Linked DNA regions of Homo sapiens: region 1 is linked to region 2. Evidence: fine-mapped QTL for protein levels in blood plasma. A gene starts in region 2. The other region holds a variant in brackets. All regions are shown on one strand. Distances are between the middles of the regions. Region 1 has its middle 38 kb from the start of FABP2. Region 2 holds the start of FABP2 (fatty acid binding protein 2).

Evidence for each region. PIP is the posterior inclusion probability: the model's chance that the variant is causal. Protein levels are from antibody-based Olink assays in UK Biobank. Linkage for the fine-mapping came from a reference panel and not from the study's own genotypes, which makes the PIPs less certain.
Region 1: its variant is fine-mapped to the plasma level of the FABP2 protein (UK Biobank, PIP 0.98).

The regions. Positions count from the first base shown.
Region 1 is chr4:119,352,055-119,367,715 of GRCh38, reverse strand. It overlaps the pseudogene KLHL2P1 and the pseudogene RNU4-33P. Among named protein-coding and RNA genes, the nearest start is that of FABP2, 38 kb to the right of the region's middle. The variant G/A (reference allele first, on the strand shown) is at 8,254.
Region 2 is chr4:119,314,932-119,330,592 of GRCh38, reverse strand. FABP2 (fatty acid binding protein 2) reads left to right here and starts at 8,455. Exons shown (of 4, transcript NM_000134.4): 1 at 8,455-8,557; 2 at 9,751-9,923; 3 at 10,950-11,057; 4 at 11,502-13,343. The coding sequence starts at 8,491. The coding sequence ends at 11,552.

The DNA of each region.
Region 1 (15,661 bases), 37 kb before region 2:
CTAGCATTGATAAACTTATTTTAAAACAGTAGCTTGTGCATCCATGTCAGTGATATAGCTATATTCTATTTTCGCAAGAAATAAAGTTTTCAATTAGCAATAATCATGCCTCAGATAAACCTCATTGGCTATGATACTGCCACTGTACAAAGCTAGAAATAAAGTTTTCATAAATTATATAGCCCAAGAAAAGGCATAATACACTTAAACCAGATTATCAGAAGCACATTAATTTTACTAACCTAACAATGAGATTAAGACATTAAGGTCCAAGAGGTAATAATATTTTTAAGACTATATGTCAATAATGCTAGGGTTTATAAAACCTTTGGCTGGTGTCAAACCAAACATGCCAGAACCACATATAATTTAACAACTCTAGACTGTGACCACCTGGACTGGATTGGAGAGGCGTACCCTGAACACTGGCAACTAGCCTGATACAAATGTGCTATCCCACACACAGGCTCCATACCTAAACAACATCACAAACAAGAAAAAAAAATCCACTTTGAACTGGATATATTTCTAATAAGGACTTTGATTTGTTTTTATTTGTCTTGTTCGAGTTCAAATTACAAAGACGCTGTTATAAGATGCTAAATCATAAACAGGATGGAGTCATTTTTTTGTTCATCAAGATAAATGCCTTTTATGTACCACATGAAACTACTTAAAACGTGAATCTCAAAATGATTCAGCCGTGGAGACATCTTCAAGGACCATATATTTTAATAATACAAAGCCACAAGTAACTCAATTACTAATGCTTCTAGAGTACCTAGCCTTGCTCCGAACAATAAATTTTTTAAAAACCACTTTGGGTGTCGTATCCACCTAGTTTTATAAGACGCTCTTATACTAAGGTTTCTAGGTTTTCTCAAACTAGCTGACCTCAATGGCCATTCCATATTAAATTTTAAATAAGACTTTTTTAATTCTATATTCTTATATTGAATAAAAATAATTTAACTAGAATGGAGACTGGATGTTCTAGTTGGTCTAATATTTTGATTAAAACTATGAGGATTACCAAATTCAGACTTAAAATATAATAAAATACAATTAACATCAAAACTCAAATGGTAAATAATTTAAATTTTTATGCCTCTGGATAATAATAAATTAGTACTAACCAGGTAAAGTGATAAAATATCAAGGTAACTGATTTCTGGGTGCTAGAATGTCAGATAAATTCATTACAATGATATAAGTACCCATGGTTATATCATAAACAACCACTAATCCTGAAGGTTTGATTCAGGAATTTATGTAATTTTTTTTTTAAGTTTTAACCTGTGTTTTCCAAGCACATCATCTGCCAAACCCTTTTACTCACAAAGGACTTCTATCCCATGAGAGAAAGAAAACAGAAATGGAAAAGCAATAAGCCTTCCATAGACACTGCTGGGAGATACATAACTTTTGCTCTAATCACTGCATGTCAAACCAATGGAACAGGTGATTCTAAATCAAAGATTTAGCATGGTACTACAATCACCCAAGTGTGGTCTCCATGCCAACTCAAATGCACAAGAGGGAGAGAACTCTATAGCAAATTAGGGACATTTTTTATATGACCTGATTCAGAATATAAAGAGGGAAGGAAAAGTCATATGAGCTATTTTCTACCCAGTGATCCCAAATAATTTTAATGAGTTATTCTTTTTCTTGGTCTTAAGTCTTTTTATTCCTGCCCATCTCTTATTTCTGCTCAACATTTATAGAGCATTTAGATATTTTTGCAAGCTTTAACTGTTATATTTTTACACCATTTCAATGCAGTGGCAAAGCACTGTTGGCCTCATTTAATAGCTGAGAAACGGAAAGGTTAATATCTTACTCAAGGCTCTTCTTGAAGTCAGTAATAAATTCAAGATTTGAGCTCTGAATTTTAATACTATAATTAGCCAAAGTCCACTGGGCCATGAAGTTTACTAGCAGAAAGCCAACGTAAGGGCTCCTTATTATTTCTGAGTTGTTCCACATTAATGTAAATATGCAGCATTATACGTGTAATTCAAATGATTTTACCTTGAGGAATTATTAACAACATTTTAAAAAACTGCTCAGTAGATGTTTCTGTTCACCTTGAAGATGAGCTTTCTACAGAACACCTTGCTACTTGGCAACTTCTAGATGTGTGGCTATGAATGAAGCATGGTCATCCACTCAAAATGGGTGGAGGGCAGTGTTGGAGGAGCAGATCTGGAATATGACTGTAACAAAGCTCAAAACATAATCAAATATATAGTGATAGTCTCTGTCAGAACAGACTATTTTTTTTTTTTTTTTTGAGATGGAGTCTCACTCTGTTGCCCAGGCTGGAGTGCAGTGGGGTGATCTCGGCTTACTGCAAGCTCCGCCTCCTGGGTTCACGCCATTCTCCTGCCTCAGCCTCCCTAGTAGCTGGGACCACAGGCACCCGCCACCACGCCCAGCTAATTTTTTGTATTTTTAGTGGAGACGGGGTTTCACTGTGTTAGCCAGGATGGTCTCTATCTCCTGACCTCATGATCCACCTGCCTCAGCCTCCCAAACAAAGTGCTGGGATTACAGGCGTGAGCCACCGTACCCAGCCAGAAGAAACTATTTTTAACATGAGGTTTAAAATGGTCCACATTATTAAATCTCCACAAGGAGATAAATAAGAATTAAAAATACCAGGGCACCCTGCCCTCTAGTTGAGAATCTCTGTGTCAATGAATCACTGTGTCTGGTGGAGTTTGGCACATCCTCAAGTGCTTGGGGATAGAAAAAGACAACTACCAGATTACAAAAAAATTCAGAAATGGGTTATCCAAAGAGCAATTATTTGTCAGAGTTTTCCCAGTACCATGAAAGGTAAGGAGACATTGGGTTTCACAGTATGTAATCAATACTCAAATCACTAGAAAGGTATACTTTGCAGTGGGATGCCAGTTTGGTAAGACTTTCCATTATCCCTTTGAAGTAAATTCCCTTTCCTTGTGCTCACCCAATGAAGCTCTGATTACTAATTCTATCACTTAGGTATCTAGATCCTGAGAATGATGCACACCGGATAATGTAAACACAGTCCCTAGAAACACCTGTTACCCGCTGAAAATTAGTTTAAGATCATTTTGGTTCATGTATTAGTTTTCTGATTTTGGCTACTCTGAGCTATTTCCCAAAAGTCTGATCAACTCTGAAAGAGCTAACAAAATAGTTTCTAGACCTGCAAAGCCAAGAAATAGATTGGGCAAGCGATGTCTAACCCCTACTGTGACATCACCTTCATTGCTCACCATCTCAAGCAGGTCCATCTGAATCTCTGTGCCCTGTTCCAGGAATTGCACCATAAGCCAGCATAGAAAACAAAGTATACTTTCTGGATTACCACTGAGTACCTATGTCTTCCTGACATCTAAGCAGTCAACATCTATTAGTCATCTGTTGGGTATTTCCATGCTAGAAATGCATGCTAAAGAATACAGTTTAGAAAAATAAAATATATACACAAATAACATAAAAATCACTGTATTTATGCATAATCAATAACATATATTCAGTCACATCTCTACTATTCATGAAACTTTTCTCTCTCACACTCCAAGTAACTTATAGCTGAATTTTCCAATTCTTTTGACCACACTACATAGTAAGACTTTTTACCTCACAACCTAGAACTCAAAGTTTCACAAAACATGCAGACTTGCTAGGATCTGCTATTTTCTTCTGAAATAGACTTTAAGCTTGAATAGCATTTCCTACTCTTGGCTCTAATTTTTCTCTTAAATGCTAATAATGACCTACTAAGTTTATTTCTTGACCCACTAGTTGATCACCACCCACACCTGAAAAACAAAAATGCTGCTTTAAGGCCTGGAGATGCAGCTCCCCATTGCTACTTCCTTTCTCCTTTCTTCAAAAACCCCTGCTCCTTGGAAGCACATGTCTGCTCACCTTCCTCATTGGGACTATCTAACGACACCTCAGTCACTCCTACTCATTTACAGATGACTTTTTTTACTTGGCCAACTTCATCTAATATACTGAGATGGAACAGGTGGTTCTAAATCAAAGATTTAGTATGGTACTACAATCACCCCAGAGTGTTGTCGTCATGCTAACTCAAACACACGAGAGAGAGAACTTTTTAAAACCTAAATCACCGTTCTCTCCACCACAACTTCTGACAATTTTTGATGACATAAACATCCAAATAGAACATCTCGGTTTCCTGAGTTCCAACTACCACTTCCTCCTCCACTTTTTCTCAGCTACCCACTCATGTAGTCTTGTTCTAGACTTTCTTATTCCAGAATAATTTTTAAAACACGGTGTAGAGCCAATCACCCAGCCAACCTCAGCCTAGATTAGTTGATCCTCAGCCAATCTGCAAATCCATAAGAATAAATGATTTTTTTATTAAGCCACTGAGCTTTGGCATACTTTGTTCTGTGGCATTTTTGTGGCAATAGCTAACACATTCATCATCTCTATACTAAGTATAAGTGGTATAACATGGCTGAAGAAAATCACACAACCATTCTACCTGATATTTATGACTGCAAATCTCAAATGAGCTCTCAATATGGCCTGACAATTCGACTACACTTCACTAGTAAATTCATCTTCATCCTTTGCAAGACAATGATTTATCATCTTTAGTTCAAATCTCCAGCATCCTTCTTCCTCATCTTCCTTTTGGCTGATTACTTGCCACAGCCTTTATAATTATATGCAAGCTGATAAAATACCTACCTTTCCACCATCCAAGCCACTAACTTGTATCTGACAACAACACAGTCTGCCTTCTGTCTGGTTAACAGAGAAGTTTTCCTGCTCCCATCTAAGGTAAGCCCCTTCATTTTGTTTTAGATGGCAACCTCTCTCACTTTTGCAATTATACCCTTTGTTTCTTTCTCCCCTTTATCACATCAACTTTCACTTTTCTACTAGGTTATTCTAATTAACATAAAAATGCTTTAAAATATTACCCATCAAAAAACAAAACAAAACAAACAAACAAAAACACCCTTAAACTCATCATCCCCTTCAGCCAGCACATTCTCTCCCCTTTCACAGCAAAGGGCATTGAAAGAACTTTCGGTACTCTCTGAGTCCACTTATTCTTAGTCCACTCCAAACCACTTTTCATTCTCACCATCACCTCTAAATAGCTTTTCCCAAGGTCACTAATGACCAGTGGGACCATATAATTCATCATCCACACTGGAACATTTCTGAGTAAAGTAAACACTAATCAGAGAAGACACCAGATTAGCAGGCATAAAATAGGACTGTCTCAGGCAAACGAATGTAGCGACACCTACACTGATATGGCTCAATTCACTTACTTGACCTATCAAGAACATCTGACACAGCCAAACACTGTCTCCTTGAAGCACTTTCTTCTCTAGAACTAGCATTCTGTGACACCACATACACCTGCTTTTCCTCCTACATCACCAGTACTCCATCTCCCTCATCTGCTCATCTAAAATCTGGAATGCCCCAGATTATGTCTTTGGCTTGCTTGCTTTCTCTGTCTACACTACCTCTTAAAGTGACCTCATCCACTTCAATATGCCACCAATACATCAAATCTACCTCCCTAACCTGACCCCTTCCCATCACAGAACCAACCTATTCAGCATCTCCACTTGTAAGCCCAACTGGTAAAAGTTAACATAACCAAAATAGAACCATTAATTCCCACCACCCCGAAAATATGTCCCCATCCCATGTCTTCACCATCTCAGACAACAGCACTATAATCCACCCAGTTGCTCAGGCCAAAAATGCAGGAGCCATTCTTGATCATTCTCCTTCCTCCATCCCGTCATGCAAATCCATTAGTAAATTCCATTGGCCCTACCTCCAAATATCTCCCAAATCTATTGTTCACCATCTCACGCCAACAACCCAGGCCCAAGCCACTAGTCTCTCACTTAGCCTACCCCAACAGGTATCTAAAGGGCCTCCAACTTCTTCTACTGCCCCCACAGTCCATCCTCCAGCTAGCAGATGGGAAAGGGGAACAAACTGTCTAAAGCATGAATTCCCTGCCCAAACTACAACTGGAACAAAATCAAACCTCCTTATCATAGTCTACAAACCCACTTTGTCTGGCCCTATTTACCTTTCTAATCTAATCTCATCTTTCTCCACTCTCTCATCATTTACTCTGCTCAAATAATAATCGCCCTTTTCTTTCTGGCCCATAAAACACGCCAAACTTATTCACATCTCAGGTCCTTTGCTCTTTCTGCTTGGAATGTTCTCTGCCTTTATTTTTACATCACTCCCTTCTTTTCATTCAAGTCTCTGCTCAAACGACCCCTCCCCAGAGAATAACAGGTAAAATTCACCTGTTTCTCTATCTATGGGTATATTATTTGTCTCGTCCCTACCCCTCCTCTACAATGTAAAGCCTTTCAAGACAAGGACCTTATCTATCCTGCCTGACATTGTAACACCAATGGTTGGAACAGTGTCTGGCATAGAATAGATACCCCATAAATATTTAGTAAACTATTGATTGAAAGATGAAATTCATCAGGATCAATACTGGCAGTGAAAAAAAGAGGTAAGCTCAACAGCTTAGATATAGGGAAGGGAAAGGGTAAGCCATGTATAAAAAGCAGTAAAGTGGTTCTTCATCCATACCTGATCTGGCCTGATCCAGCTACAGGTCTTACAAATCTTAGATCTTCAAGTGCAGTTCAATTCGGTCCTAAACTAATCCTGACCAATACCACAAAGCTTATTGGGCACCATATCAGTGTTTACAGTCTGGCGTTAATCTTGCTGCCCTAAACGTGATGTGCTCCCCCAAGTACCCTCATGCTTGCCAAGCCACAGCGTGACTCCTAATGCCCCACATAACAAGCCCCAGATCCTGGGTTTGTTGCCCAGTTTCCTACGGGAATGCAGACCCTCCACAATCTCAAAATTACTTGGTTGTGGTCATTACAATTGCCCAGCCCTTACCAAGTCTCTTTCTAGACAAGCCAGAAACATAAGAGCTATAGGCTTGAGTGTTCACCCAGGGCAGCTCTTCCTGGATAAAGGCACTGCCATCAGCCTAAGAGTATATGCTACCACCACTACCAACACCACGAAAGTCCTGCTGCCAGGCTCTCTGCAGCATCTCATTCAGACCTGAATCTGTAACTCACCTCTAAACATTTCAGTTCGGACTGCATGCTACCCTCAGTTTTTTTTGTTATTGTTATTTTGAGATGAAATCTCACTCTGCTGCCCAGGCTGGAGTGCAGTGGTACGATCTTGGTTTACTGCAACCTCCACCTCCCGGGTTCAAGCGATTCTCCTGCCTCAGCCTCACGAGTAGCTGGGACCACAAGTGTGCACCACCACGCCTGGCTAACTTTTGTAATTTTAGTAGAGATGAGGTTTCACCATGTTGGGCAGGCTGGCCTTGAACTCCTGAGCTCAGGTGATCCGCCTCCCTTGGCATCCCTCCCAAAGTGCTGGGATTACAGGCATGAGCCACTGTGCCCAGCCTACCCTCAGTTTTAAAATTATTTTTTGAAAATGTCAAAAAAAAACACAAACACAAACACAAACAGAAAAAAAATACTTGTTGAATGCTTGCTCCATCAGGTCAGTGCTCCTACGCCTAGCCCTATTCATCTCTGGCTCAAGCTCCAATGCCAATCAGAGGTTAAGCAACTTAGGCAAGGTCACATGGCATTTAAACAGCAAAGCCAAGATCCAAACCCACTCTAAGTATATACTCTATTCATTACTTTGTTCCCTGTTCATTTTTTTTTTTTTTTTTTTGTAGCACCAGGACCGAGTACTTATCAGAAATTCCATCAATGACTGTTTAACTGATGGGGTGTCTTAAATATTTTTAAGACAGATTTTTAAAACAAATCTCCACCTACTGGGAATTTCATTTCAATGTTTACCCACACAATATAGAAATACACAAAGCAAAAGCACTCTTCACCAAAATCCACTTTACCTACTCACCTGATGAACCAACTCTCTCCATGCCCTCAGTAACTACACTCTACTGTGCTTGCACACGTCTGCTCCTCCAGCTGGGATGCATTTTACCAATTCATACATGTTGGATTTGCTCCCACATCTGTTTATGACACTTGCACTTATTGAAATTACACAATTTAAGTAAATGAATTCAATGAAATGTGAATGTAAAAAGAGCTCTTTCTATGAAAACTAAGTTGGCTGCTTTGGAGTGGCTTGATCAACGTGTTACTGGAAAAAAAAAAATAAATGTTTTCAATCCAATTA[G/A]ACATGGGAGGAATGAAAGATAAACTGTATAATTCAAAGAAGATTTTGCCTTGAGATTTCAAGTTCAGTTCTTGCTGCACTTAAAAAAAAAGCCTGGAAATTATAGTTGGTGCATGATTATGGTATGGTTTGTGCAAAAAAGGACATGTGGCTCTTGAAACAGCTTACCATACTTAGTTTTACAAACAAAGATTGGAATACAATTGTAAACCTACATGTTTGAGGTTAAAATATTTAGGGTACACATGTATTCTGTTTTGGTGATTTCCCTACTTTGGCTGGCTTTTTATTGATTAAGCTAACTTAAAGCTTTTTCAACTATGTCAACAGGCCTGGTACCATGTAAGCCCCTCCATGTGATGTCCTCCTTTTGGGAACATGCAGAGTAAAACACTATCTATACAGCATACTCCTAGCAGTTCTGGTTTGAAGCAAAACAACAACAACCTGCCCTATACCACCAATAAAATGGACGCACTATATTGAATTTTCTACTATACTGAGACTGTGTTAAACATTTAGTCTGTTTATTACCAATAACTGATTTTAGATGTCCCTTGAAAAACTCTCATTTAAATTTTGTTTCATTTCTAAAGAGATAGAAAGTGTCTGTCTCAAATAATTCCAATTCATCCAACATATATTTCATGAACTTTTTAAAACCTATCCATTCAAAACTGTCAGATGTTTCTCAAATTCTTCTAGATGATAACAGTTCTAATATGGAAAGAATCTGTAGATGAGTACTCATAATATTAATTTAGGAATGAGAGCATTTACTTTCATGGGCACTGTTTATTAACAGCATTACCTTTGTTTTTAACACTTACATCAAGTGAGAAACTCTTACCTACTTTTAGGAAGCCAAAACAAATACCCAAAGGCGGAGAAGTCAAACTCATGTAACAAAACTACAAATTTAGCAATGAAGTAAATGCTTTAAGAAGTTCAAGATCCTTTAGGATTCTCCAAAAGTGTTAATTAACACATCTAATGACATAGCATGTACCTTGAATAATTTTTGGATCGTGAAAAAAAATTTTCAGTTATAAAGACATTTACATTTTTGAATTTATAAACTCTCTTTGTAAGCAATACTAGTTAATGACGATTTAATAGTTGCTGTGTGACGTTGAGCAAATTATTTAACCTTCTTAAACCTATTTCTTCAATCACATTGGGGTAACACCTATCTTACATGGAGGCAAAAACATCAAATGAGCTACATATAAAATGCTTAGCATATAACTAGAGATATACCCATGTGAAAATCCTTCATACATGCACATACACACACAGACTCACACACACTTACATATTTATATTTTTTATACCTAAAGCCAAGTATTCTTGGCCGGGAGTGGTAGCTCATGCCTATAATCCCAGCACTTGAGGAGGCCAAGGTTGGCAGACTGCTTGAGGTCAGGAGTTCAAGACCAGCCTGGCCAACATGGTGAAACCCCATCTCTACTAAAAATACAAAATTAGCCGGGCGTGATGGTGCATGTCTGTAGTCCCAGCTACTTGGAAGGCTGAGGTGGGAGAATTGCTTGAACCTGGGAAGCGGAGGTTGCAACGAGCCAAGATCACACCACTGACCACAGCCTGGGCAACAGAGCAAGACTCTGTCTCAATAAAATAAAAAAATTTAAAAATTTAAAAATAAAGCCAAGTATTCTTAACAGTGGAAGGTGGGGCAAGCAGCAAGGTACACGGATTCTCTGAAAGTGTATTGAAAATGTATGCAAAACTTTGTGTAGATAAGCTAATGTGCCCTTTCCTTAGAAAAGGGTTGACAGTTTTTCATCATATTCTCAAAGGTGTCCATAACCACCAAATGTCAAAGAGCATAGTTTTCAATAGCCTTTGGCTGTATTTTCTCTATTTCCCAGATTTATGCAGTTCATAAAGTTTGCTTTGAAACTCTAGACACAAGTTAAATTTTAATTCACTCAACAGCAACAACAACAAAAAAGTTGAATTACAAGTGTAGTCATAGGTAAAATATTGGTTCTCCTTTTATCTCCCTTTAAAAAAAAACTGTAAATTCATTTAGCTCAAATTATCCTCCAATTTTGCCATAAATAAAACCAAATATCCAAACATAAAGCCAAAGTTTAAAAACCTAAACAAACAAAAAAACAACAGCAGCAACAAACACACAAAAAGCTAGGAAACCTGGAATGGCCAAGAATTCAAGCCCTATTGCTTGTATAAATCAGAAGGGACTATAATAACAATAGTCCCTTGTTTGGAGTTAATTTTTTAAATTACTCATTCTCTCATTCTGACTCCAAGTTAACAACCTTCACTTCAAATAGGTATTATATTGTTTAAAATTAGTGTAATAAGGAGACCATATGGTATCATGGAAGAGACCCTACACTAGTAATCTGGGAAACCAGGGTTACAGCCCTGTTCTGTCGCCAACTGACTGCCAACAGATGGCTGGACCTCAGCATTCCACAGCACAATGATTCTACACCAAAACATGCAATCCCAAAGATACTTTCTAGCCCAATATTGTACTTTACTACTAAAACAGAAACTTACAAAAGGGAGGTCACCTGGTAAAAGATTTGAGTCTAGGTCCAGTGAGAAAAATATACCACCACCAAGAAACATTTGAATTACAGAAACTTCTGTTCCCACTGTCAGCACCTTCAGGGCATATAAATTCAGAGCACGGCTTCCAGTTAGGGCCACTTAAAACTTCAGCTTAACATTAATAACAACAGACACCTTCTTCTTTAAGGTGGACAACACTTTACAAGAAAGATTTAACAAAATATAGATTGACAAAAAATACACAAAGCAGGAAATAGGAGTCTGGTGTATCTTTATATGGTATAGTCTTATTTTTTTCATTGAAAAACACATGTCATGGAAAAAGTAGCTACTTTTAATCTAATTTATTTCTCAACTGCCTTTTCCAAAACAAGTATTTTTCAATTGAAAATAAAAGAAAGCTTTACAAACCATGATAGCCCTATGCTGAAGAGATATCCCTCTCCCTCTTAAAAACAAAACAAAACTATACAAATATTAAGCATTTAATAAGCCTGCCAAATGTAACTCTTAGAATGTATTCCTGCATATTCTAAAAGCTAAGCAATATATACACAAGAGGCAAATTAGGATGGCAAGAGTTTTCTGAAAGGCTGTGATGACTAATATTTCAGGACTGGAACATGATAGTTATTAAAAGAAACATGAGAGGCGTTCTCCTAATTCCTAATAGGCCCATGTCCCCACCACAAGAACTACTACAAACAACATTCAGGGCTGAATTCACACAGTTTAGTCTCTAAGGCCTAAAGGATTTTTCTCAATTTTTTCCCATGTGGCCCATTATGTGAATCAAAGAAATCAGTAATTCATTTGTTGAAGGTCAAATATAAGGACATAATGAGGCCCATGCACTAAAATGAATAAAAAGAATGAACAAAAAGAAACTAAGATAAACTCTTGTTGAAAACAATGCCCCAGAATCTAGCAAATAGTCTAAATGTACCTAAAAGACCAGAATGAGATGACGTATTAGTTCAGTGATCTCATGACATATACCAAACACTTTCTTCCATGTTAAAAAAAAAAAAAAGTTCATCTAGCATCTGATGCATACATTTAGAAACAACTCCAATATTGACCAAGGTTTTTCAAATGCCTTACCTCATAACTGGAACTTCTAAGCAAAAGCTAATGAGGCCATCTGGGAAAGATCACCAGGAGGCCTTACTACTGCCAGTATTTCACATGGAACAATCGATAGCATGTCTTAACAAGTGCAAAGATTTCAGTCTCCGAATTCATTTTGTAGCATATTTCAACTAGTTAGCAGGGATAAGGATTGAACCAACAACTTCCTATTTGTGCAAGTAGAATTTAAAGATTATTTCTTAAGAATTTAGTCCTAGTTATTTTTGTTGTCCTCAAAACACAGTGTCCCTGTTAGAAGGAATATAAATAAACACACATTTTCAGATGGCAATTTGGCATTGCTATCAAAAAATTAATATATGCATGTACTCTTTGATTCACCAATTCCATTTTGAGGAATCCAGCTTATAAAATTTGGGGATGCAAATATAAAAATGTCCACTCATTGCACTGTTTTTATACAGGTGAAAAAATCATACTATATATATATATAGCTGATTAACATGAGTTAGACCCATATACACTAATGTGTGAAGACCCCTAAGACACTGCTCAGTTCAAAAAGCAAGTTTCAGAACAAGTATAGTATTTCTTATGTAAAACAATTGTGTGTACGTTTGTGTGAATAAATGCATGGAAAATGGTCTGAAGGGATTCACAGTACATAACAGAAGCTGCCCTCTAGAGAGGAAGAAGTGAATCAATGTATGTGAACTGGGGTATCGAAGAGAAGGTCCATTTTCTGAAGAGGGATTTTCACCTTTTACTCCACATCCATCTGTATTATTTAAACATTTATGTAACACACATAAAACATTTGTTCTTTATAGAATATAAGATGCAATATCAACTTTTACCTAAACTCCAGAATCACTTAAAGAGGATGCTCAAATAGTAAAACAAAGAATAGGCTGGGCATATGGTGGTTCACACCTATAATCCCAGCACTTTGGGAGGCTGAAGAGGGCGGATCACTTGAGCCCAAGAGTTTGAGATCAGCCTGGGGAACATAGTGAGACCTCTCTACAAAAAAAATAAGAAAATTCGCTGGGCATAGTGGCACATGCCTGTAGTCCCAGCTACTTGGGAGGCTGCAGCGGGAGGACTCCCTGAGCCTAGGAGGTCGAGGCTGCGTGATCCATGATCACACCACCGCGCTCCAACCTGAGAGACAGAGCAAGATTGGGTATCAAAAAAAAAAAAAAAAAAGACAGAAAGAATATTGGCAGTCAAAAACATTCTTTGTAGACTATATCCTTCCAAGGAATAAAGAGAAATTGTGGGCAGCATCAATGAACAGTTATAAATGAATATGACAGTGTTTTCATGAAAGAACAAGCATCATTCAGAGAACTAAAGGATCTGTATCTCAGATCTTAAAGAATATAAAAGATACTGAACTCAGAAACATTACTAAAAAGGTGTAATCATTCCAAATATTTTTTAGAAATACAATTTTCACAATGAATCCTATTATTTTGGTGAAAAATGTATACTGTGTGGGTGTGCTTTTTTTATTAAAAAAAACTGTATGCATAAAAAGCTAGATGGTGTGAAGTGTTTACTCTTACCTGTACATTTTCTTCTGTAACCTGAATTTCTGCAGTGTAAACGTAATCAATTAGCATCCTCAGGGTCCAGCCATCTACCTCTTTTATTCTAACTCTCTTTGCTCGGCTCTCACTCATCTCACCTAAAACACAAAGGAATAAGAGTGATGTTACAGCAAGACACTGCTGTGGAAGTTCCAGTGCCAATGCACATTGATACATCTTCTTGCCACTCACTGTATTCAACAGGCAGCATAATCAGCCACTTTTTGCAGGCTGAAAACACTCCCCTTCCTCTTCCAAACGCTTACCTGAGCAAATCATAAAATGTACTTTTGTTACCCACTTGCACCTGCAAATCATATCACAACAATGAACGTGCCATATGTCCAGCTGCATGAACTATTCTTGTGGCTATAGGATCAGTAGCTGAGGCTGTCCCTGCTTTTGGGCATTTGTTGTCTTTATGGATTTCTAGTCATGACTAGAAGAGTAATGATGTTACTGCCTTTGGCTAATAGCAATGAACAGCTGCTGAAAAGGACCCACCTGGTTAGCATTACTCCTTCAACAAACACACAAATGCCTGCCGGGGCATGCATAGCCTGCACCAGACACAGAGGCTCCACCCTCAGTGAGAGGTCACAATCCTCATGCCAGAGACAACGAGAAAACAAATTACCTATGATGCTTAGAGAATGCAAGGCATAACAGGGATCACAATAATAACAAAGAGTTAGTCAATAGCAAAGCTTATTACAGAGATCTTCTACCTCAGATTCAGTTCCTGTTTGTTAACTGCAGCAACTTCACGCTGAAGTCATTTCCATACCAGCTTTATTACTAAAACCAGGTATCCTTCCACAAAACTGCCTGCTAAAAAAACAGTACAAGACTTTCTTCCTAATACCCACTTGTGGAAAAGAAATAGGGAAGGAGGAAAGAGAAGGGATGGTCCCTAAGCCAAGGAGACTTGGGGAGAGTAGGAGGCAAGTTTAAGCACCGAGGTGTGACAACATAAGTGAACTATGATACATGGAGACACAAGCAATTGAATGCGGGTGGGGAGGGATTCAATTAAAAACTAAAAGGACAGTCCAAGAATAATGCTGAGGGCCATGGGCAAAAAAGATTTGGCTCTAGAATTCACTAAGTTTCAAAGGTAAAAGAAGCATGAGAACGTGCCACTATTCATCATCTTCACTTTAACCCAGCATCTCTTATTAAACCATAACATAGCCTCAAGATTTCTTGAAAGCTCACTTCTTTTTCTGATACAATGCACTGTCAGCAACCATAAACTATCAGAAAAGTCTATGGGAAATCATAATTACACAAAATTCCTTTGTAAACAAAACCCTGGGAGAAGAGAAATAACAATAGTGGTGTACATTTAACCGCGTTCTTCCCTGGAGATTATCTCTGACAAGATCTCAGAAAGAAGCTGTTCACCTCAGAGCTAAAATATCCCAAAAAACTACCCTGCTACTTCCCAGGAAGAAAAACATCTCTTTGTATGACAAGGGAAGTAGGAGAGTTAATGAGAAAGATGTACCTATACCTACATAGCAGGATGAAAGGGGACTGAGTTGTATGTCTGGTGCTACAGCAAATGTTTTTCCCGTGCTTACAGAAAGGGGGAAAAAGGAAGGTCAAGGAATACAGAAAAATAAGTCTTCAGCCACATATAAGGCACCTTCCTCTATCCTATTCTTGCTGGATCCTGTGAATAGTTGGGGTATAAACTGATAGTCTGTATAAACTGAAGCCTCTTTTGTGCCAAAAGTTAAGACATTCTGGTGATTCCCACTTGGACTTGAGACAAAGGCCATAACTGATTCACCTACAGAGCCCCAATAATATGCAAAGCCCTTCAGGGCCTGGGGCCACATGAGCACAAAGCCAAACAGCCAGTACTCAGTTAAGCGTGACTTACCTTAGGCAAAACCAAGTGGGACTTTAATTTACATGTATGACTGAAAAATAATTAGTTCTCTGCCAAACAGTTTTTAATATTATAGTTCTTAAGGTATTGCTATAAGATGCATTTTGCTAGTTCAAATATTTGTCATTTTTAAGATTATTTTTCTCCCCAGAAAACTGTATCTGCTTCCAATAAATTCAATTTCAATTATATACTGTTTTGAAAACATTTTAATATTTTTATATTAATTTACAAAAACAGTAAGAAAAACAAA
Region 2 (15,661 bases):
AACAATTAATAGGAGTAAAGAAAGTAATAGTAGGTAACTTTGTAATTGAGAAGGCATAAATTGAGGGAATTGTTTGATGGTTTCTTTCCTCTGTGAAGTAATGTGCAGGTTGTCTGCTGAGGGCAAAGGTAAAAGGCTACAGGAGGGTGACTAAAGGCACAGCCATTGTCGCAAATGTGGAGGAAGCTGATTGAAATACACAGAAGTCATTCCAGGGAGTGCTGATAATTACTCTAAGACTAGAAACCATGCATGCCTAATAGCACCTAGGTCAGTGCAGGAAAAAGTGAGAGAGTTTTAAAATTGGAAACAGGATATCAATTGAATAAAGAATTTAAACAAACAGGAGGGGGCTTTAACTTGAGAGGAAATAGAGGCAACAACTAAGAAAATTTCTCTCCCAGCCAATAACTAATGTGCAGAATAAAATAAAGGAGCTGAGAGCATGGAAAGTTGTGGTCAGAGTGGCATGTTAAATACAACAGAAGGAGCAGCTTTAATGATGACAGATCACAGGACACAGCCCTGGATGTAAGTAGATAAAGCATAAAAGAAGTAAAGGTCATTAGATATGAGGGGGTTAAGGAGCTGTGAAGCCAGACTGACAAGTGGCTTATCCACATGGACTTTGAGGTCACCCAGGATGATGGCAGGACACAGATGATGGTGAGCCAAGTACCAAGATTTTCAGTGATAGATGGTAGATGATAATGCTAGAGGGAGTGGATGGTAGATAACAATGATGAAGTAGGCTGGACCACAGCCAAATGGGAGTGGTCTCAGAAAACAATATTTTGTTTTGAAAAAGGCAGAAACATAATGGTTTGGTTGTGGCAGTAGGGAGCTGTGATAATGCAAATCCATCTTTTTCTACCTGTGGTATGAGGGGCATAGGAGATGAACAACCTCTTATCTACATTGCTTGAAAGTGGCTCATCATTTCTGGGATAAACCCAGACTAAGAAGGAGTCATAAATTCTTCATGCAAGATCATTCAATGGACACATTAATCTTCTAAAATGGCTGTTTTCTTAGGCTGTTTTGTTATTAATGAGAATTAGCAAGCCACACTCACCACTCTATGGTAGACATTCTCCTGCACACTGCTGTACATTTATAATCTCTTTGAAAGAAAACCAACCAGTCATCCCAGATACAAAATCTAAAACCTAATTAAATAGGTCATAATATTTCTAAAATTTAGAGGCTAATCATTAAAACAGAATGAAATAAGCTTTGTCGGCAAACTTCAGAATTCTCTCTCATTCCCCATTCACTGCTAGGGATTTGACAGTAACCTTAAGACTTTCCTGTTACTCCTTCTATCTGTCCCTCAAATCCTTCTCTCATATATTTCTGATAGAGACCTCTATTTTTTGACATATAAAAAGCTAAACAACTTAAGATCAAAAAATAGGATACATAAATTCTGAGATGATTAGAATATGCCTTAAAATGCTATTTCACAATAAGGATATATAAAGAATAATACTCTACAAAAACACTCCCTTCTATTATACAATGGGGTAAAAGGATTTTTGTGATCTCTAAAACATTATTCCTTTGAGATGAGATTTTAACATCCTATTGCCCTTGCTAATGATGTCGCTGGGCTTCATGATAACAATATTCCTTTGGTTATCATGAATCAGCTGTTCTTGTCTTTTATGAGCTACTCTGAGACCTTTAGAAGGTCATTACACCTGGGAGAAGAAGGGTTGCCTGACTCACTCTTGATAGTTCGAGGCAAGAATCTTTGAGCAATCAGCATCCAAGCTGAGACCTGAAGCAACAGAGGCATGGACATTCAGGGGATTGGGGACTGCAAGAAGTTTAATAGATCTAGATCTTGCAGTACACAGTAGGGAATGGAAAAATCAACTGGAGATTTAAGTAGTGGCTTTGTAAACCATGCTAAGGATTGTGGTTTGTACTTTCCCTTGGAGGAATGGAATAGGGATCCACAGGAGTTTCTGCTGATTTCCACTTCTTCCAGACCACTCCGTGGGTGATGTTGACTGTAGAGCCCAGAGAGAGAGGGTACAGCTATAGCTCTACCTCCATAGCATCTGCATCCACATGCACACATATACTTAGTCCACTCACGACCCCCAAACTGCAATACTCAAGTCTTTTAATATTATCAAAATGGAAAAGAAAGGGCTGGGTCTGCCCTTAGCTGGTTGGCTCAATCATATCATCAGTAGAAAAGGTCTGTAGAGAAATTGGTCCCTAAGTTCCGTATATTATTTTCTAGATGGACTACAGATAAGTGATAAAAACCGAGGGGCTACAGAATTGGGTAGCTGGAGAAGGAAAAGTGTAATGTTAAAAATGTAATCTGAGCATTAATAAAAAAAAAAACTAATGATGCTACTTAACAGAGATAACAGGATGTCCTACCTAAGGTTAAATTAGGTCACTGCCACTGATAAATTTAAGACTGAAAGTTTAACATGCTTATTTTGTTACCAGCCTTCTGTGAGCCCAAGGGCTATTTGCTTTATATTTATCCTATTTGGATCCTTCTGCGAAGCTTAAAATGGCCATGAGACACGGGTTAGGTCATGGTGAAAATGGTAAGAAGCCACTTTAGTTTCTTCCTGCCAACCTTCCTTCTTGAATCAGACACTTTAATTTCAATTGCTATGAGATCACATAGTGGAAACATGTATTCCCAGAGGGTGATACAGTGCAATACTATCCTTAACAGGCAAATCCAAGGCATAGCCAGTCCCAAGTTGATCACTAGTGCAAATCATAAAATACCTAAGTAACTTTTAGGTGACTTTCTCATAAACACCAGAATGACATGGGTTTTCTTAACAAAATATCACTGGTTTGAGACCTAGGATGCTTCTAAAACATTGTTATTGCTCCCAGATTTCCTTTCTCAGAGAATTAGGAGAGAAACAAAGGTTTGTTGAGGACCTGTTATCTATAAGTTGTTTCAGGTGGGTGCTTTATGTAATTTGTTCATAAAATATACATATCAGGTATTATTATTGTCTTCATTTTATTGATGAGAAAACTGAGGCTCAGAGAGATTGAGTAAGTAATGTGACGAAGATTCTGCAGAGTAATGTATGTTTAGTCAGCACTGAAACCCAAGTCAATGGGTCTTGTTTCTAAAACACATGTTCTTTTCACTCTACCATACGTTTATTTCAGTGACCAGATACATGTAGTTTTCTGACCTAGAAATAAAGATTGGATTCATTATCCATAGGCTTCTGAGTTCACAAATCACCACAGCCAGTCAACTACCTGAGAGACTGTTGAGTCCTCAGCTTTAAACAAAGTTTTCTACTTCCCTCCAAGTTGAAAGTGTAATAGAGACATAAAAAACCCTTCAAAAAATCAATGAATTCTGGAGCTGGTTTTTTGAAAAGATCAACAAAATTGATGGACCACTAGCAAGACTAATAAAGAAGAAAAGAGAGAAGAATCAAATGGATGCAATAAAAAATGATAAAGGGGATACCACCACCAATCCCACAGAAATACAAACTACCATCAGAGAATACTATAAACACCTCTACGCAAATAAACTAGAAAATCTAGAAGAAATGGATAAATTCCTCGGCACATGCATCCTCCCAAGACTAAACCAGGAAGAAGTTGAATCTCTGAATAGACCAGTAACAGGCTCCTAAATTGAGGCAATAATTAATAGCTTACCAACCAAAAAAAGTCCAGGACCAGATGGATTCACAGCCAAATTCTACCAGAGGTACAAGGAGGAGCTGGTACCATTCCTTCTGAAACTATTCCAAACAATAGAAAAAGAGGGAATCCTCCCTAACTCATTTCATGAGGCCAGCATCATCCTGATACCAAAGCCTGTCAGAGACACAACAAAAAAAGAGATTTTAGACCAATATCCCTGATGAACATCGATGCAAAAATCCTCAATAAAATACTGGCAAACCAACTCCAGCAGCACATCAAAAAGTTTATCCACCATGATCAAGTGGGCTTCATCCCTGGGATGCAAGGCTGGTTCAACATACACAAATCAATAAATGTAATCCAGCATATAAACAGAACCAACAACAAAAACCACATGATTATCTCAATAGATGCAGAAAAGGCCTTTGACAAAATTCAACAACCTTCATGCTAAAAACTCTCAATATATTAGGTATTGATGGGACATATCTCAAAATAATAAGAGCTATCTATGATAAACCCACAGCCAATATCATACTGAATGGGCAAAAACTGGAAGCATTCCCTTTCAAAACTGGCACAAGACAGGGATGCCCTCTCTCACCACTCCTATTCAACATAGTGTTGGAAGTTCTGGCCAGGGCAATCAGGCAGGAGAAGGAAATAAAGGACATTCAACTAGGAAAAGAGGAAGTCAAATTGTCCCTGTTTGCAGATGACATGATTGTATATCTAGAAAACCCCATCGTCTCAGCCCAAAATCTCCTTAAGCTGATAGGCAACTTCAGCAAAGTCTCAGGATACAAAATCAATGTGCAAAAATCACAAACATTCTTATACACCAATAACAGACAAACAGAGAGCCAAATCATGAGTGAAGTCCCATTCACAATTGCTTCAAAGAGAATAAAATACCCAGAAATCCAACTTACATGGGATATGAAGGACGTCTTCAAGGAGAACTACAAACCACTGCTCAATGAAATAAAAGAGGATACAAACAAATGGAAGAACATTCCATGCTCATGGGTAGGAAGAATCAATATCGTGAAAATGGCCATCCTCCCAAAGTAATTTATAGATTCAATGCCATCCCCATCAAGCTACCAATGACTTTCTTCACAGAATTGGAAAAAACTACTTGAAAGTTCATATGGAACCAAAAAAGCCCACATTGCCAAGTCAATCCTAAGCCAAAAGAACAAAGCTGGAGGCATCACGCTACCTGACTTCAAACTATACTACAAGGCTACAGTAACCAAAACAGCATAGTACTGGTACCAAAATAGAGATATAGACCAATGGAACAGAACAGAGCCCTCAGAAATAATGCTGCTTATCTACAACGATCTGATCTTTGACAAACCTGACAAAAACAAGAAATGGAGAAAGGATTCCCTGTTTAATAAATGGTGCTGGGAAAACTGGCTAGCCATATGTAGAAAGCTGAAACTGGATCCCTTCCTTACACCTTATACAAAAATTAATTCAAGATAGATTAAAGACTTAAATGTTAGACCTAAAACCACAAAAACCCTAGAAGAAAACCTAGGCAATACCATTCAGGACATAGGCATGGGCAAGTACTTCATGACTAAAAACACCAAAAGCAATGGCAACAAAAGCCAAAATTGACAAATGAGATCTAATTAAACTAAAGAGCTTCTGCACAGCAAAAGAAACTACCATCAGGGTGAACAGGCAACCTACAGAATGGGCGAAAATTTTTGCAATCTACTCATCTGACAAAGGGCTAATATCCAGAATCTACAATGAACTCAAACAAATTTACAGGAAAAAAATAAACAACCACATCAACAAGTGGGCGAAGGATATGAACAGACACTTCTCAAAAGAAGACATTTATGCAGCCAAAAGACACATGAAAAAATGCTCATCATCACTGGCCATCAGAGAAATGCAAATCAAAACCACAATGAGATACCATCTCACACCAGTTAGAATGGCAATCATTAAAAAGTCAGGAAACAACAGGTGCTGGAGAGGATGTGGAGAAATAGGAACACTTTTACACTGTTGAGGGGACTGTAAACTAGTTCAACCCTTGTGGAAGTCAGTGTGGCGATTCCTCAGGGATCTAGAACTAGAAATACCATTTGACCCAGCCATCCCATTACTGGGTATATAACCAAAGGATTATAAAACATGCTGCTATAAAGACACATGCACACATATGTTTATAGGGGCACTATTCACAATAGCAAAGACTTGGAACCAACCCAAATGTCCAACAATGATAGACTGGATTAAGAAAATGTGGCACATATACACCATGGAATACTATGCAGCCATAAAAAATGATGAGTCCATGTCCTTTGTAGGGACATGGATGAAGCTGGAAGCCATCATTCTCAGCAAACTATCGCAAGGACAAAAAACCAAAGACCGCATGTTCTCACTTATAGGTGGGAATTGAACAATGAGAACACTTAGACACAGGAAGGGGAACATCACACACCGGGGCCTGTTATGGGGTGGGGGGAGGGGGTAGGGATAGCATTAGGAGGTATACCTAATGTTAAATGACGAGTTAATGGGTGCAGCACACCAACATGGCACATGTGTACATATGTAACAAACCTGCACGTTGTGCACATGTGCCCTAAAACTTAAAGTGTAATAAAAAAAGAAAGAAAGTGTATTAGGTTGATAGCTCCCAAGTGATACAGTTTTAATTCTTTGAAAAAAGATTAAAAAATCACAATGTACCTAATTTTGAAAGTAAAGCTAAATTATGAATGTAAAGGACTTCCCATTATGACCTTTGTCCCCAACTCATGAGTGTGTATATGTGTTTTCTTTCCTTTTTTGACATTTAAAAAATTATTTATTTTTTAGAGATGGGATCTCTCTGTTGCCCAGGCTGGAGTGTACTGGCATGATCACAACTCATTGCAATCTCCAACTCCTGGGATCAAGAGATCTTCCCGCCTTAGCCTCCCAAGTAGCTGGGACTACAGGCATGTGCCATTACACCTGGCTAATTTATTTTATTATAATTGTTACAGCCAGGCTCTCCCTATGTTGCTTAGGCTGGCCTCAAACTGCTGGTTTCGAACTCCTGGCCTGAAGTGATTCTCCTGCCTCAGCCTCTCTAATAGCTGGGATTACAGGCAAGAACCACTGCACCAGGCAACTCTTTTTCTTTTTTGTTTTTTTTTGTTTTTTGTTTTTTTGTTTTTTTGTTTTTTTGTTTTTTGAGACGGAGTCTCGCTCTGTCGCCCAGGCTGGAGTGCAGTGGCACGATCTCGGCTCACTGCAAGCTCCGCCTCCCGGGTTCACGCCATTCTCCTGCCTCAGCCTCCCGAGCAGCTGGGACTACAGGCGCCCACCACCACGCCCGGCTAATTTTTTTTGCATTTTTAGTAGAGACGGGGTTTCACCGTGTTAGCCAGGATGGTCTCGATCTCCTGACCTCGTGATCCGCCCGCCTCGGCCTCCCAAAGTGCTGGGATTACAGGCGCGAGCCACCGCGCCCGGCCTCTTTTTCTTTTTTAATGAAATAATAGAGCTAGTAGAAAATAGTTTGCTTTTTAAAGTGCTTACTTAATAAAATAAAAAGTGGGCAACTCGAAATAAAAAATCAAACAATATCTAACATGTTTAAAAGATTTTTAAAAATCAAAATATAAAATAATATCAAAATTTAAAAACTGGGATTCTGTTCCCCAAAGTTCTGTTCAAATCTGTTAGATTTATCTTCCCTTGACCCTAAGTAATATCTTGGGCAAGCCCTAGAGCTTCTTTCCTGACCCTTAGTTAATAAGATGTTATCTGGTCACATTCAGTCACAATAATAGACTCATTTTAGTAATAAACATCTTAAGACTAGTAATTAAAACTCTTTACTTCACACCAAGTTTCCTCCCCAAGCTTGGCCTGTTCCTGGCTGGCAGCCTGAAGTAGGGAAAGGAGAGATATGGTGACCTTTTCTTTGTACCTTTCTAGCTACCCTCTATACCCTGACCCTACATACATAATTGAGCTGTGGCTTCTGACTCTACTGGGTTTGGGGATGAGAGGCATTGAGAGTAAAATGAAGGAGTGGTTTTAATTAATGGCACAGCTAAAACTGGATTTTGTTCTCTCTGCACATGGCAGATGTTTAAAGCTCATTCTTTCTTTTATGCAAGTTTTTACACCATCCAGCCTCATTTGTACCTCTTGAATTTTTGCTCAGTGGCCTATCACCATTCAGGATCAAGACAAAAATCAATGAGCACTTATTGTGTGTCATGCACCCTACAAAGTGCCAGGATATTTATCCAAACTCCTGGCAATGCTAAACACAATGCAAAAAGACATATTAGAAAACGAATCTTATTAACTTTAACTTTTCAACTGTATTTCATCATAAAGTCTTACTTTACAAGATAATTGCTGTTGTGAAAAAGGGAAAGGTCATGGTCTCATTTCCCAGATGTTATTTGATATATGCTATAAATTATATTACCTCCAACATAGTCTGCACTTTGAACTTAGAAAAACAATCTTCAGACGGCATGCATTCTAATTCTTGAAATAAGTATGCCCACAAACTGTAATTTAAGACAGAATAGGTATGCTTCTCATGTTTTAATTCAGTTGAATTTCAGAAGATCTCAGGAATGTACAGAACGAGAATTAAGAATTAATTAATAAGAATTAATTAATTGCTTGACATAGTTAGGTGATTTCCTGAACTTTAAGCTTCCACATCACAGTATGAAGTTGGTTCTAAGATAAGAAATATAATAAATTCTCGCCCAAGGACAGACCTGAATCTCTAGCTGCCTAGAGGCTGACTCAACTGAAATCATGGCGTTTGACAGCACTTGGAAGGTAGACCGGAGTGAAAACTATGACAAGTTCATGGAAAAAATGGGTAAAGACTTTATTTCTTTGTGGCTCATTCTTTGCTTTCTTACAAACATTTTTCTTTCTAACTCCTAAATCTCTAGGAGATTACAGATAGCTTACAGATAGCTCCTGATGTGGTAGAGAGGATCCAGAAGATGTTCAGAGGAGGGAAACCATATTCTCCCTTCTTACATTAGGAAGAATCCACTATCTCACTAATGGAAGAAAAGATTCTTTGAGTGCTGTTCTCTGAAACACACCAAAAAGATCCAGAAATGTTTCCTTCCCTCTTTAACTGAAAAATGACTTTTTTTGTTGTTTACAGTAAGAAAATGGCAGCGTGTAATGATAACTTCCAGATCTGAAAATGTTAAATTCTAGGAGATGGAAAAACAAAGACCATATAAGAAAGTAATGGAAAAGGTTCTCTTAAAATTTATAGCGCTGAATAAGTTAGATTTAATTCTGATTTCTTCTAACTTAAAAAAGTTTTGGAATAATCTTGAGAAGCTGTGTAGTTTTCTCCAGGGCGTTTAATTTAACTGATTTATAATTTGATACCAATACTCTGGCAGCCCATATACTATACAAGATAGGCAAACAAATTTGTGTCATTCCCCTAAAAGAAAAATCTGCATCAATTATAGCTTACAGTTTAGGAACTCTAAGTTTAAATTTATAAAAGTTGTAGATTCTTATAGTGATTTTGGCTTAATATTTGCTAATTTTCTCATTTTTGTGTCAGAAAGAAATGCCACAAGAAGCAAATAGAACTATAAAGTTCAAAATGTTAAAGCCACTAAGAAAAACAAAGGGGCATTTAAGAAAAAAGAATACTGTATATGTGGAATTAAAGATGTGCTTCCTTATAAATATATGAATATACATTTTAATCCTTCATTTGATATTTCTAGAATTTGATTTACTTAACACTGAAATGAACAGTTTGTTAATCTTATTAAGGTTGCTCAGCTCTAAGATTCTATAATTCTGTACTCTACTTAATTTTTCTCAAGTTATGGAAAAACAACTTTAATCAGTTCTCTTGATCTGATTGAACCTGAACTTCTGTAGAAGCAATCTGAATGTTCTTGTGCAAAGGCAATGCTACCGAGTTTTCTTCCCACCCTCAAAATAAACAAACAAAACATAACTTGGAAAAATAAACACTTCCTATGGGATTTGACTTTATTTTCTCCATTGTCTTACCTTTTACAGGTGTTAATATAGTGAAAAGGAAGCTTGCAGCTCATGACAATTTGAAGCTGACAATTACACAAGAAGGAAATAAATTCACAGTCAAAGAATCAAGCACTTTTCGAAACATTGAAGTTGTTTTTGAACTTGGTGTCACCTTTAATTACAATCTAGCAGACGGAACTGAACTCAGGGTAAGAATTTTTTTTTTTATGAGCAATGCATTCTTGATTTTTCTACCCAATATTAAAATGATTTCTGCTCTATTTCATTGGATGGTTTAATTAATGCAGGTCTCCTTCACTAACTGAAGAAGCCAATGAAGTTTGTCTACATTATATATTGCACAAATTGGCAGGATATTTAAATATGTTTTTATTTTTATACGCATCTGTGAAGAATCTGAATTGAACAGTAAGAATTAGAAAACTATCTTTTGAATGACTGAATATAGACCTATTCATAAAGAAATTTAAAACTGTGTTTTTAAACAGTACAGCAAAAGAAGCCTTTAGAGTTAATATGTAACTTAACTGTAATAGCAATTTAACATGTTGAAATAATAAAAGAAATGAATAGATGAACAAATGAGTGAGTTACCAAATGGAAAGATTTGATGTATTGTAGGTCATTGGGAGTGTACCTTTTCATGTTTAAGATAACACATTTTAGGAAGTCATCATTTTCAACAAATTTTTTAAAAACTTTTTTTAGCCTCAACATTTTTCTATTTAAATTACATGTTTGTAATGACAATTTAACTACTGAATGTTTTATCATAAGTTATGTCTTTCTTTAATTAGTACCACAATCACACAAATTAAAACAAGCACAGAGTTGTTAACATCTCCATGAAACTAATTTTAACCATGACTATATTTCTGGACACGTAACATGAAAGATTCAGAAAGAAGTGCTGCTCATCTGCCTTAAAATTCAGCGTATGGAAATTATTGAAGAGAACAAGCATAATGGTTATCAACACATACTCTGTAGCCCAATGGCCTAGGTTCAATCCTCACTCTGTGACTTTAGGTGAATCACTGTGCCATTTTACAGTCTCCTCTTCTGCAAAGTAGAGATAATAGTATCAGTTTCATAGGGTCACCATGAAGATTAAATGAAAAAGTGTGTCTACAGAACTCAGAACAGTGCCTGACATGTGTAAGACCCTAATAAATGCCATTATTATTATTATTATTATTATTATTATTATGTAGGGGACCTGGAGCCTTGAGGGAAATAAACTTATTGGAAAATTCAAACGGACAGACAATGGAAACGAACTGAATACTGTCCGAGAAATTATAGGTGATGAACTAGTCCAGGTGAGTTGTCAAATTTATAGCTATTTTCAAAAGGCAAAAATTACTACAAAACAATAATTTTTGTCACTGCTGAGCCAGATCTTCAGTAAACTGACTACTTCTTTTCTCATAAATCTTACTGATTTTAAAAATATTGTATAGCTATTTTCTGATGCCTATTTACTAAAGACAACTTATATATGTCAAATAATCAATGCCTATTTTAACTGAAAATATAAATGACTACAAACCAACATGTGTTTTAAAATGGCTGTATCCCATATCTGTATAAATCTTGCTATCAAGTACAAGAAAAAATTGTATAAACTCATACTCATATAATATATATGAATATATAATATAAAAATAGTATAAACTCATATAGTATAAAACTATAATACTACTTTTTCTTAACTTAGATGTAAACCTTAAAGATAAATTCTTCTGTTTGTTAACACCTTTCAGACTTATGTATATGAAGGAGTAGAAGCCAAAAGGATCTTTAAAAAGGATTGAGCATTATTCTTGGCGCACAGTCCAAAATACAAATTGGACAGAAGATCTATATTGTACCAGAACTATTTATTTCACCCCATCAAGTATAAGGTTACTGATTGATTGGTCCTTTTATAAACATTGGTATATTTCCATTCATGCCAAAGCAAAAGAAGTAAAAGCTAATTAGGATTTAATTTGTTTTATATTCTCTAAGATATATATTTACTAAAAGAATTTGTGACATTTTAAAAAACAAAAATAAATATTGCGTCCATGTTGCTTTATATGTAGCCTTGCCTTTTAAAAGAAAAAGTATGTGAATATGAATTGACAGACTGTTTTCGTAGAGAGAGGGTCTTACTCTTTCACTCAGGCTGGAATGTAGTGGAGAGATCATAGCTCACTGTAACCTCAAACTCCTGGACTCATGCAATCTTCCTGCCTCAGGCTTCTGAGTAGCTAGGACTATGGGTACATTCCACAGTGCCCAGCTAATTTTTGTTTTGTTTTCTTTTTATTTTTTTTAGAGATGGGGTCTTGCTATATTGCCCAGGCTGGTCTTGAACCCCTGGCCTCAAGCAATCCTCCTGCCTCAGCCTCTCAAGTTGTTTTTTTTCTTTACATTTGATAAACTAAAAGCATAGGCTGCATATGAGTCTTTAACATCTTGAACTGGTTGTGAATAATTTTCTGGCACTGGTTGTAAGTAATATCTATTATTATAAAAATAATATATGCTCAACCAGAAAACTTAGAAATAAGAAACACAAATGTAAAATAAGTATTTCCATAACTCATAATCCAGAGATAATTGCCATTCTGATTTTGATAGATATCCTCTCAGCTCTCTTCCCTGGGGGCAGATATTTCCCAATACATACCACTTTGAATAGGATGATAGGAAATAAATGATGTACTACATTAAATTAAATTATTGTATTACATTTTTGTACACATCAGTCATTCCCACGCTTGGCTGAAAATCAGGATCATCTGAGAAACTTAAACAATTTCTGCATTCTTAATCTCCACTGTTATTCTATTATATCAGAATCGCTAATAGAACCAAGAATTCTAGAAAATTTCCTGGTGATTCTGATGCAGCCTGTCCACTAACTTGTCTTTGAGAACAATGGAGATATCAGTTATCAATGTTATTTTTAACCACCCCCTTCTTTTTTGTTGTTGTGGGTTTTTTCACATAAACACATACATTGCCAATTTTCCAGGGCTCAAAAAGTTTCCTTTTATTCATATTTTCACATGACGTAAAATTTTATGTGCTTCACATAATTGTATTTTAGCAGGGTACATATTAGGGGATGGAGAGGGGGTACAATTTTTAAGCATTTGCAGCTGCAACTCTATAGACTTTTGACAAATTCTTTTTCACACTGATGTAGATAACAGCTTAACATTTACATAGTTCTTACTACTTGCCACACACTGTTCTAAGTGGTATATACATATGACATATATATTAAAATGTAGGAAGAAAAATGTTTGAGTACCTGATGAAAATGAATAGAGAGTATGTAATCTTTGAAAGCTGAATACTGCGTGTTCTCACTTATAAGTGGGAGCTAAATAATGTATACACATGGACACACCAGAGTGTAGAATAATAGACACTGGAGACTTGGAAGAGTTGGAGGGTTGGCAGGGGGCGATGATAATTTACTTAATGGGTACAATGTACATTATTCAGGGGGTGATGGTTACAGCCCAGACTTTACCACTATGCAATATATCAATGTAACAAAACTATACTTGTACTCCTTAAATTTATATAAAAATACCTTAAATCTATGTTCATTTTATAATTTCATAAAAATCTTCACATAGGAAATAGTAATTATTTAGATTTTCACATGCTTCTCTTCATAAAAGCTCAATGTATTTTTATCCCTCTAATCTTATGTGTCTACCATATATGAATCAGGAAAAGGCAGGTATTAATCTCAATACAAAAACTGAGAGAGACAAAGGCACAAAGAAGTTTATTAGCTTGTCTAATATTGTACAAAGTCCATGATGAACAGAAGAATTAAATGTAGGTCTTGACTTTCAGCCTAGATCATTATGATCTATGCTATTACTCAGCCTGTTATAAACAAAAATATATTAAGAAAAAAAATGTCCTTAATTCCTCAGTGGCACCCAAGAATAGCACTCTAAATGAGTCAGGTCAGACTGTAAAATAATGGTGTTGAGTGATTAGACACTTATCTATTTCTAGTCTCATTGCAGGCTGACTTTTTTCACCATTTATATCCTTTCTAGAATTAAATTTCCACTATTTATTAGTATTGGAGAACAGCCTATTATTTGTTAAGTGACTTCCATTTCAACAACCGTTTTTCGGGAAAACCAACCTTGTCATTACACCACCCTGCTTGGCCAAAAGAGGGTCCCTGACCCAAGAGCAGCCAATCTACCACAATTTGGCCAGATCATGAGCTCTGTGTAGAAGGAAAAATGACAACTAACTGAACCTGCAAGAACCTCTTTCTAGGGAGTTTGAATTTGAGAAGTACACAGTTAGTAGTTGATAGCAAGGAAAAAGGCTTAAAGAGGACAAATAGAGCAGACAATAAGTAGAAGTCATGAGTACCTGAAACTATGAACAAGCAGTAACCATAGGGTAGATAGCAGAATGTCGGGGCAGTCAGAAGCAGTTGGAGTAGTAGAAGCTGAAATATTTACACATGCAATATGGTATCTGGGATTTGCTTCAAATTGCTTTCTCCCCAATCTAGGGTTGGGGAGGAAGATTGATACAAGTTGGCAATTCTTGCAGCTGTTGCAAAGTGCCTGACACATAATAACATATGATAGGTTCACTGAATAGGAACACAGGAATTCATTATATTCATCTCTGTACTTCTGTATGTATTTGAGATTTTCCATAACAAGAAGTTAAAAATATAGTACTTACATACACATATAACTCCAGAATCCAACCACTTCCCATCACTTCCACTGCTATCACCTTAGTATGAGCCACCATTATCTTTTTCCTGGATTACTGTTACAACTCTCTAAAAAGCCCAAGAACTTCTACCTTCCCTACTCCACCCCTTTAGTCTCTTTTTCTACACAGCAGCCAGAAGGATCCTTTAAAAATCTAAATCTGATCACATCGCTTATCTGCTCAAACTGCTGCAATGGCTTCCATTTTCACTCAGAGGAAAAAGCCAATGTTCTTACAATGACCTGTAAGACCCTATATGATCAGATGCCCTGTTACCTCTCCAACACGTGGTCCTGTTTTTCATGAAATATCTGGGGGAAGAGTGTTTCAAGCAGAGGAAACACCCTGGAGCAAAGACACCAAGGCAGTAGCAAACCTGGTAAATTTGAAGAACATAGCCTGGAAAGAGTCCCCAAATCACCCAGAGCTGACCAAAAACAAGACCAATGTTCAGGAAACACAGGCTGACTCAGCTTTCCTAAAATTTAGGAATGATGTGGTGAAAAAGAATGGGTTTTAGAATCACAGACTTGCCCAAATTCTTGTCTGCCCATTTACTGACTAAAATTCAAGTTCTGATTCTCTATTTTTCTCATTTGAAAAATGGGGAAAATGTAATGATTTTCTGAGCTTGTTGCAATTGAGGTATTATGTATAAAACATCGAGTGTAATGCCTGGCATATACCTGGTACTCAAATGTAACATAAACATGTACCCTTCTCCTCTAGAGAAAATGGGGCAAAGTATATCCTGAGTAGATGGGAAAACTCTTTTCTTAAAATACCTCTCATGGAGTCTGCGTGAGAGAGTGAGCCTTGGCCTGGTAGATGAGAATACTTAGTTCCAGTCCAGTCTGTGACATAACTAGCTGGGGACTTTGGGAGAGTCTCTTCATCTCTTTGGAATGTAGTTTAATCATCTTTAAAATGAGAGGATTGAACTAGATCTCCAAATTTTCTTTCAGTGCTAAGATTCTATGATGTCTGAATGACATTTAGTGATTCCTTCCTTTCTTAAGCAGCCTTTTTGGTGTGGGTCACAGGGGACAGGACATTAGAACAATGGAAGGTAGGATGGGAAGAGGGAAATATTTACATTATAAAGTATGGCTGGTTTCATGGGTGTATGGCTTGTGTGGGCTCAGAGGGCCCT